Homo sapiens: one gene and its partner. The protein of the gene in region 1 purifies or fractionates together with the protein of each later gene. This does not show direct contact. Each region holds a gene or a part of one and is shown on either strand. Other genes may lie near its edges. The genes, in order: CFAP69 and B3GALNT2.

Region 1 (3,823 bases):
TGTAAGATGCTACATGTTCTTCAGAAGAAGATCAGTCAGCACATTTTTGTTTGCAAGTGACTAAAAACCCAAATGACCAAAGCAATATAGAAAATTTATGGCTTATTTAACTACAAAGTCAAGGATAAAACTGGTTTCATGTGCAGCTTTATTCAGGGATCAGCAGATACTAGGACTTCGTCCCTCCTCTCTCTACATTGTCTTCCATGGTGCTGGCTTCACACCCAAGCCTATGTAGTAAGACCTAAGAAGTCTACGATCACATCATTTCAACCTCAAATCAAGCAGAAGAGAAACCTTGCTATCCTGAAGGCTCAGAGAAAAGTCTTTGAATTGAGTCCAGTTTGGCCCTGAATGGTCTAATATTGGTCAAATGCCTGTTCCACAGTGATTTATTAGTGCCAAAAGAAAAAATGCTCTGACTGGCGAAAAGGCAGCTGAAGGCAGCCTCACAGGAGCAAAAGTCAGGAAGGAGTAAATGCCTAAATAAAAATAAGAATGCTGTTCTTATAAAAAGGGCAAGTAGGTCCCAGGAGGCAAAGCAACAAATATCTACTATTAATACAAGGGAACCTAACTCAGAGTTGGAGAATTAATAACTGCTTCCTAATGAACTCAAGTCTAGTAACTGAATGACAAACAGGACTTGGTAACAGAAAAGTTTTGCATGCGGAGAGCATCCTAGACAGGGAAAACAAGTGAAAATATAATTAGCAAAATCAGAAAACTAAAATTCAGTATGATGAGAGCAGAAGGAACAGGCTACAATGGTGAGAGATGAGGCTAACAATGTTATCAGGGACCATAACATGAAAGGTCTAATAAGCCTTGTTAAGGAGGTAGGACTTAATCCTAAGAACAAAGAATAGTCTTTAAATGGTTTTACAAAGGAAAATGACATGATTGAATGTGTTATAGAGCTGTCACTTTGACCACCATGTGTAATAGACTGGTTTAGTGGATTCTTATCTGGTACATAGAGGATTAGAGGCAGATTTGGAAGTGTAAAAAATATTAGAAATATGTTCAAATGAATAGTATAATATAAAAAGGGAGATTTTGTTGATAGACATTCAGGAAGTATTTTCATAAAAGTGTGTGTTTTAGTTTGAGCTGCTATAATAAAGTACCGTAAACTGGGTGGTTTATAAACAACAGAAAGTTATTTTTCAGTTTGGGAGGCTAGAATTCTGATATCAGGGTGCCAGTGTGGTTGGGTTCTGATGAGGGTGCTCTTCTGGGTTGCATACTGCTGATCTCTTGTATTCTTACATGGAGGAAAGAGAGCAAGACAGCTCTCTGGAGTCCCTTTTATAAGGGCACTAATTCCATTCATGAGGGCTCATTACCTCCCTAAGGCCTCACTCCTAAAACCATCACATTGGGGGTTAGGATTTAAATATATGAATTTTGGAGGGACGCAAACATTTAGTGTATAACAATATAGTTTTTAAAATATGATTTTACTTTCTAGGGCTTTGAAGGAAGTATTTAAAAATCTGTTTATGAGAGGTTTCAGTCATTATGACCGTCAGCTTAGAAATGACATATTAGTGATCACTACAATTATAGCTCAAAATCCTGAAGCACCAATGATTGTAAGTATGAATCAAATTGCATTAATTTTAATTGTGGAAGTGGTGGGCTTGGGTGAAAGAAGTCCTATATTATGTTGGAATATTTGTGTATTTTCTTGTAATGCTAAGTTATGCTGTAATATCTTGATGGTCACCAGTGTGCTTATCACTCTGCCAATTCTTCTTTGCAATCCTTTGGAAATTTGGAATCTTCCTCATATTGTGTGATTTATACATGTATTTACCACTTATGATGCTTTTCTTTCCTTCCTGATGATTTGAGTTTCCATCTGGCATCATTTCTCTTTCACTGGAAGAACTTTGTTTACAATTTCTTGTGGTGCAAATCTACTGGCTGCTGGCAACAAGTTATCTTAGTTTTCTTTTATCTGAAAATATATTTAATTCATCTTAATTCTTAAAGTCTATGCTCATTGAATATAGAACTCTAGGCTGAAAAATGTTTTTGTTTAGCATTTCAAAGATAAAGTTCTGCTGTCTTATGGAGTCTGTTGTTTCTGATGAGAAATATTCATTGTGAGGTTCCATGGTGTAATGGTGAGCACCCTGGACTCTGATGAGAAGTATCCATTATTTCAAATCGTTATTCCCCTATGTATAATATATCATCCTTTTCTCTCACTGTTTTCAAGATTTTAACTCTATCTTTGGTTCCTAGCAGTTTCGAAATGATGTGCTAAGGTGAGATCTCCTTTGTATTTGTTCTGCTTAGGTTTCATAGAGCTTCTTGGATATATAAATTTAAGTCTTTGAGAAGATTTGGAGAACTCTTGGCCATTATTTCTTCAAATATTTTTTCAGCCCCATTCTCTCTCCCCACTTCTTCAGAGGCTCTGATTACTTTTATGTTTGACTTTTTGATATTGTCCCACAGGTTTGTGAGGCTCTGCTCACTTTTTTCAATCATTTTTCTCTCTATTCTTCAGGTTGGATAATTTGTATTAGTCTATATATTTAAATTCACTGACTTTTTTATTTCTGTCATCTCCATTCTGCTGTTAATCTCATCCAGTGCATTTTTACTTCAGATATATTTTTCAGTTTTAGAATTTATTTTTATTCCTTTTTATAGTGTCTCTCCTGAGAGTTCTTATCTTTCTATTCATTATGAGCATCTTTACTGTAGATTCTGGTATACTCCTCTGAAGAATTTTTAATAACTACATATTTAACTTAGCTGTACTCATCCCTTTTTGAGGTATGGCAGCCCAAATCTTAATTCAGTTCTTGCCTGGGATGCTTGAGTATTCTCTGCACTTGTGTGGTTCAGCTATCAGCCAGATATTTGGGAAGAGTTTGTACACAGAATTTAGCATTCTCTCTCTCTGGCTCTCTCCTTTATGGGATTTCTCCCTTCACTTTCCAATGGCTGTGGTTGCCTCTGCCCTCTGGTTCTTCAGGCCACTAAGACCACAGGGTTACTCTGAGTTTTAGCATTTCCACGAGGTGTAGAATACGGCCTGCTCTCAGGCCAAAAGCCTTTTTTTTTTTTTTTTTTTTTTTTTTTTTGAGACGGAATCTTGCTCTGTCGCCCAGGCCGGAGTGCAGTGGCGCGATCTCAGCTCACTGCAAGCTCCGCCTCCCGGGTTTGCGCCATTCTCCTGCCTCAGTCTCCTGAGTAGCTGGGACTACAGGCACCCGCCACCACACCCGGCTAATTTTTTCGTATTTTTAGTAGAGACAGGGTTTCACTGTGTTAGCCAGGATGGTCTCGATCTCCTGACCTCAGGATCTGCCCGCCTTGGCCTCCCAAAGTGCTGGGATTACAGGCGTGAGCCACCGCGCCCGGCCCCAAAAGCCTTTTTTAAAATGGGAAACTCGTGTAGTGCCATTCCCTTCTACAAAATTCTGACATCCTTCCAGTGTCTGCTTACTCTTGGTCACAAGATAGTTTTATTTGTCACCAGCAGGAGAATTTCTCTCGGAGCTACTACTCATCTGTACCAGAAGCTGAGCCTTCACATATTTTATAATTAAAAATCATTGAATGATTGAAATTATTTAATAGAGATCCTTGGCAACAATATTCACAAGTCAGTCACGTAAGTTCTAGTTGTGCTACAAAGAACTGGCTGTGACGACCTCAGCCCACTAACAGTGGACGTCAAGTAGTCCCAAGAGTCATGGAATTCATGCTGTGCAAATAGGGAAACAGTGCTACATAGTATCCTAGTTAAAGCTGCAACTTATAGGTAGACCTTTGTTTCTCTAGAATCCCCTGGTCA
Region 2 (3,823 bases), on another chromosome or scaffold:
ATTTGAGAGCCTACTCTGTGCCAGCTCCTATCGTAGGTGTGGAATTACAGCAGTAATCAAGCTAAACTTCCTGCCCTCATGTAGTTTACAATTTAGAAGGGAAGACAGAGCATCAGGAAATAATTATAAATATCACAGCGGTAGTGATAAGTATAGGGAAAAAAGATAAAGCAGTGTTAAGAGATTAAAGAGATGGTTTTAAATAGGTCAGGGAAGTCCATTCCATTCTGAAGAGGTAACAGTTGAGCAGGGACCAGAATGAAGTAAGTGAGTCACCTTAGTACCAGAGTCAGCAACTTTTTTAATGTGATAGGTTCCCTTAAACCAGTCAGGGAAAGCAACTGGTAAAGAGGAAGTGAAATCCAGTACACCTGAGGGTGACAGAGGAAAATGCAGGTGGAGATAACCATCGGACTAAGGAATCTAAACATAGGATATCTTGATTACAAAATGCTCGTTTTGGGTAATGCCTTAAGTAGGAATTATTTAACGGTTAATTTAGAAAAATGATGTGACAAAAGAAGGCTTCGCTTTCTAGGGTATCTGGAAAGAAAGAAACCAAAACAAAGGAGCATATTCACTCAACAAGTACTTGAGTGTTAGATTCTGTGCTGGATGCCTAGTCCCTTCTCCCAAGGTGCTCACAGTATCTAATGGAAACAGATGTAGAGCAAGTAGAAGGTCAGAAAACAAATTGAGCTTGCTTTGTAATTTTGCCTGGGGTGAGTTCTTCCAAAATTATCCCTATATGCTAATTGTGTCTCTGTGCTTCAGTTTCCTTATTTATAAGATGATGATCTCATAGACTTATTGTGAAGATTCAATTAATGAAACACCCGCAACAGTGCCTGTTTCATAGTAAACACTCCATGAGTTTGAGAGAGGAGTGGTAGTCTGGTGGCCGCTGATGCCTGTGCTAGTGTGGTGTTTTGGGAGGTGTCTTTGGTAGTGTGTATGATGATTGTCTTTATCATTAGATCTGTGACAGGCTCACATGTTTTCTTCATTTTCAAGATTTGTATCTATTTGTGACTCTTCCAAGAGCATGCATATCAGAGTGGAATTTTGGTGTGATTTTTAAGACTCTTGGGCTTATTTTGAGCAATCAATTTTGATGTCAACCTTCTTTAGACTTTTTTGATTATTATTTTGAGGCACAGTTTCACTCTGTCGCCCAGGCTGGAGTGCAGTGGCACCATCTTGACTAACTGCAACCTCTGCCTCCGGGTTGAAGCCATTCTCCTGCCTCAGCCTCTGTTACATGTGTGTGCCACCACACCCAGCTAATTTTTGTATTATTAGTAGAGACTGCGTTTTGCCATGTTGGCCAGGCTGGTCTCGAACTCCTGACCTCAAGCGATTCATTCACCTCGGCCTCCCAAAGTGCTAGGATTACAGGCATGAGCCACTGCGCCAGGCCCTCCCTTAGACTTTAATATACCTTTGGATGTCCACTCACAGTGCAGGGTTGAGCAGGTTGCCAGACTCTCAGGATATATTACATATTAAGAAAAGAAATAGTTCTTACTGTAGGGTCTCAGAAGAAAACAATACCCCAAAATAAGGCCTCAGAAGCAGCTGTCTCTGACCTGCTGCTGCTGTCCTCTCTCTGGCCTTGCATTCTCACCTGAGGCTAGCTGTAGAAACTAAAATCCCTCTTCCCCAAAGCCAGCCATAAAACCTAAACATATTACTCTAACTAGCCCCCACCACCTCCTTTCTATATAAAAATTACCTAACTTACCTTCTTTTATTAAAGGTCATAAGAACCTCATACCAGAGAGGGTCCTATCCCATACCCAGTAGGAAAGAATGTATACTCAGAGAGGACAAGAAGAATCTAGACAGGCCTTGCTGGGTTTTCCAACTCCATCTGTTAACATTAGATCCTACCCTTTCTGTCCAATCTTAATTCCACATAGCTATCTATACTTTGTTAAACCTAAGCACAGAAATGGGCACTTTCTCCTGTATCTTTACTGATCAAATAAATTTATATGCCTTTTCTCCTGTCCATCTCTTGTCAGTGATTTTCACCGAACCTTCAGAGGGAAAACTTTCCCTTGGCCCTTACGTTGCCCTCAGGGAGCTTGCTTGGGATTGTGATTTAGTCCTGACATTATGAAGATTTTGTTTACTGCTGTATCTGTGCCATCTAGAACAATGAGCATAGGAGATGCTCTGTCATTTGAGTGAATAAATCAAGAGAATAAAACTGGCGCAGTTTGATGTATTTTCACAAATTGAACACACCCAACTAATCACCACCCAGATTTAAAAAAAGAAAACTATCAGTGCTTCAGAAGTTCCCTTCATGCTCTGTTTTGTCACTACCAGGGATAGTAACCAGTGGCAGAAATTTGGCTACTTTTGTACTTTATATAAACAGAACCGTCTAGTATCTACATAGTTCCTATCGCCTGTTTATCTTAATATGATGTATTAATAGAATAATGTTTAATGATATGATTAACATGTAATTTTAATGGCTGCATAGTATTCTGTCATATAGCTACACCATAATTTATTTAATGAGTCCTTTATGTGTTTATGTAGCTTGCAGTTTTTCGCTATTAATAGGTGACACTATGATTAATAAAGATCTTCTGAGTGTATCACTGATTATTTCTTTAGAATGAGTTCTTAGAATTGCTGGACAAAGTTACACCATTCTAAATTATTTGACACATTGCCAAATTGCCCTGCAGAAGACTGTACCAAATTACATTCCTTCCCGCAATGAAAAAGAGTAGCCTTTTTTTTTTTTTTTTTTTTTTTTTTTTTTTTGAGAAGGAGTCTAGCTCTGTCACCCAGACTGGAGAGCAGTGGCGGGATCTTGGCTGACTGCAACCTCTGCCTCCCAGGTTCAAGCAAGTCTCCTGACTCAGCCTCCCGAGTAGCTGGGATTACAGGCATGCACCACCACACCTAGCTAATTTTTGTTGTATTTTTAATAGAGATGAGGTTTCACCATATTGGCCAGGCTGGTCTCGAACTTCTGACCTTGTGATCTGCCCTCCTCGGCCTCCCAAAATTGAAGCTGGGATTATAGGCATGAGCCACCGTGCCCGGCGGAGAGTAGCCACTTTGTTGAAATCACTAACAACATTTCCTTGAAGTACCATCATTTAGTTACAATCATTTAAGAAGACATTTGTCAGTTTGAATGTAGGAGAAAACTGGTGTCTCATTGCTCTAATTCAAACTTGATTCTTATTGAAGTTGAACATGTTTTCATAGGCTTGCTATTTGCCTTTTTTCTTTTCTGAATTATCTTTATGTCCTTCTGTATCATGTTTACTTCTTACCACTTTCTTTTTTTCCCTCTGTTTCTAGACACTGGAGTCAACTAGGTACCCTGTTCTTGTAACATAAAAGGTGATAAGAGTTTAGAGCCAGATTGGTAAAGGGAGCTAGAAATTTGAGCAACATTCTTACATAGGTATTTTATTATGCATCTGCTTTGGGTTTTGTACTGTGTAACACAGTACTCAGGAGTCTATTGGACTAATTTACATTAATGGTATGTGGTTAAAAAACCTATTTTTCTGACATTTGACTTCAATATATCTTGAAGTAGTTCTCTAAAAGACCACGATATGCCGTGTTACTTTCCCTCTGCAAGAAAAAGAGAAATGCATGTAAAGTAAAGCAGTTGAACAGAAGCAGCTTAGACATGGATTAGAAGCAGGGGGGATTGAGAGTGGCAGAGAGGTGGAATAAGATCAAAAAGAGGTTTCCATCCATAATCCATGGGATTTTCACATGTCACATGGTTATCTTTGTATTTCTTTATTATTTTTAGAAAAATCTTGTTTGACAA

The links.
Region 2: the proteins of CFAP69 (region 1) and B3GALNT2 purify together in Homo sapiens (affinity purification with mass spectrometry; one large-scale study listed by BioGRID and IntAct). This does not show direct contact.

What each region holds. Positions count from the first base shown.
Region 1 is NC_000007.14:90,272,513-90,276,335, forward strand, and holds part of CFAP69 (cilia- and flagella-associated protein 69), read left to right. Parts: intron 1-1,474; coding exon 1,475-1,598; intron 1,599-3,823. UniProt on the Homo sapiens protein: Cilium- and flagellum-associated protein. In the olfactory epithelium, regulates the speed of activation and termination of the odor response and thus contributes to the robustness of olfactory transduction pathways.
Region 2 is NC_000001.11:235,497,808-235,501,630, reverse strand, and holds part of B3GALNT2 (UDP-GalNAc:beta-1,3-N-acetylgalactosaminyltransferase 2), read left to right. Parts: intron 1-3,823. UniProt on the Homo sapiens protein: Beta-1,3-N-acetylgalactosaminyltransferase that synthesizes a unique carbohydrate structure, GalNAc-beta-1-3GlcNAc, on N- and O-glycans. Has no galactose nor galactosaminyl transferase activity toward any acceptor substrate.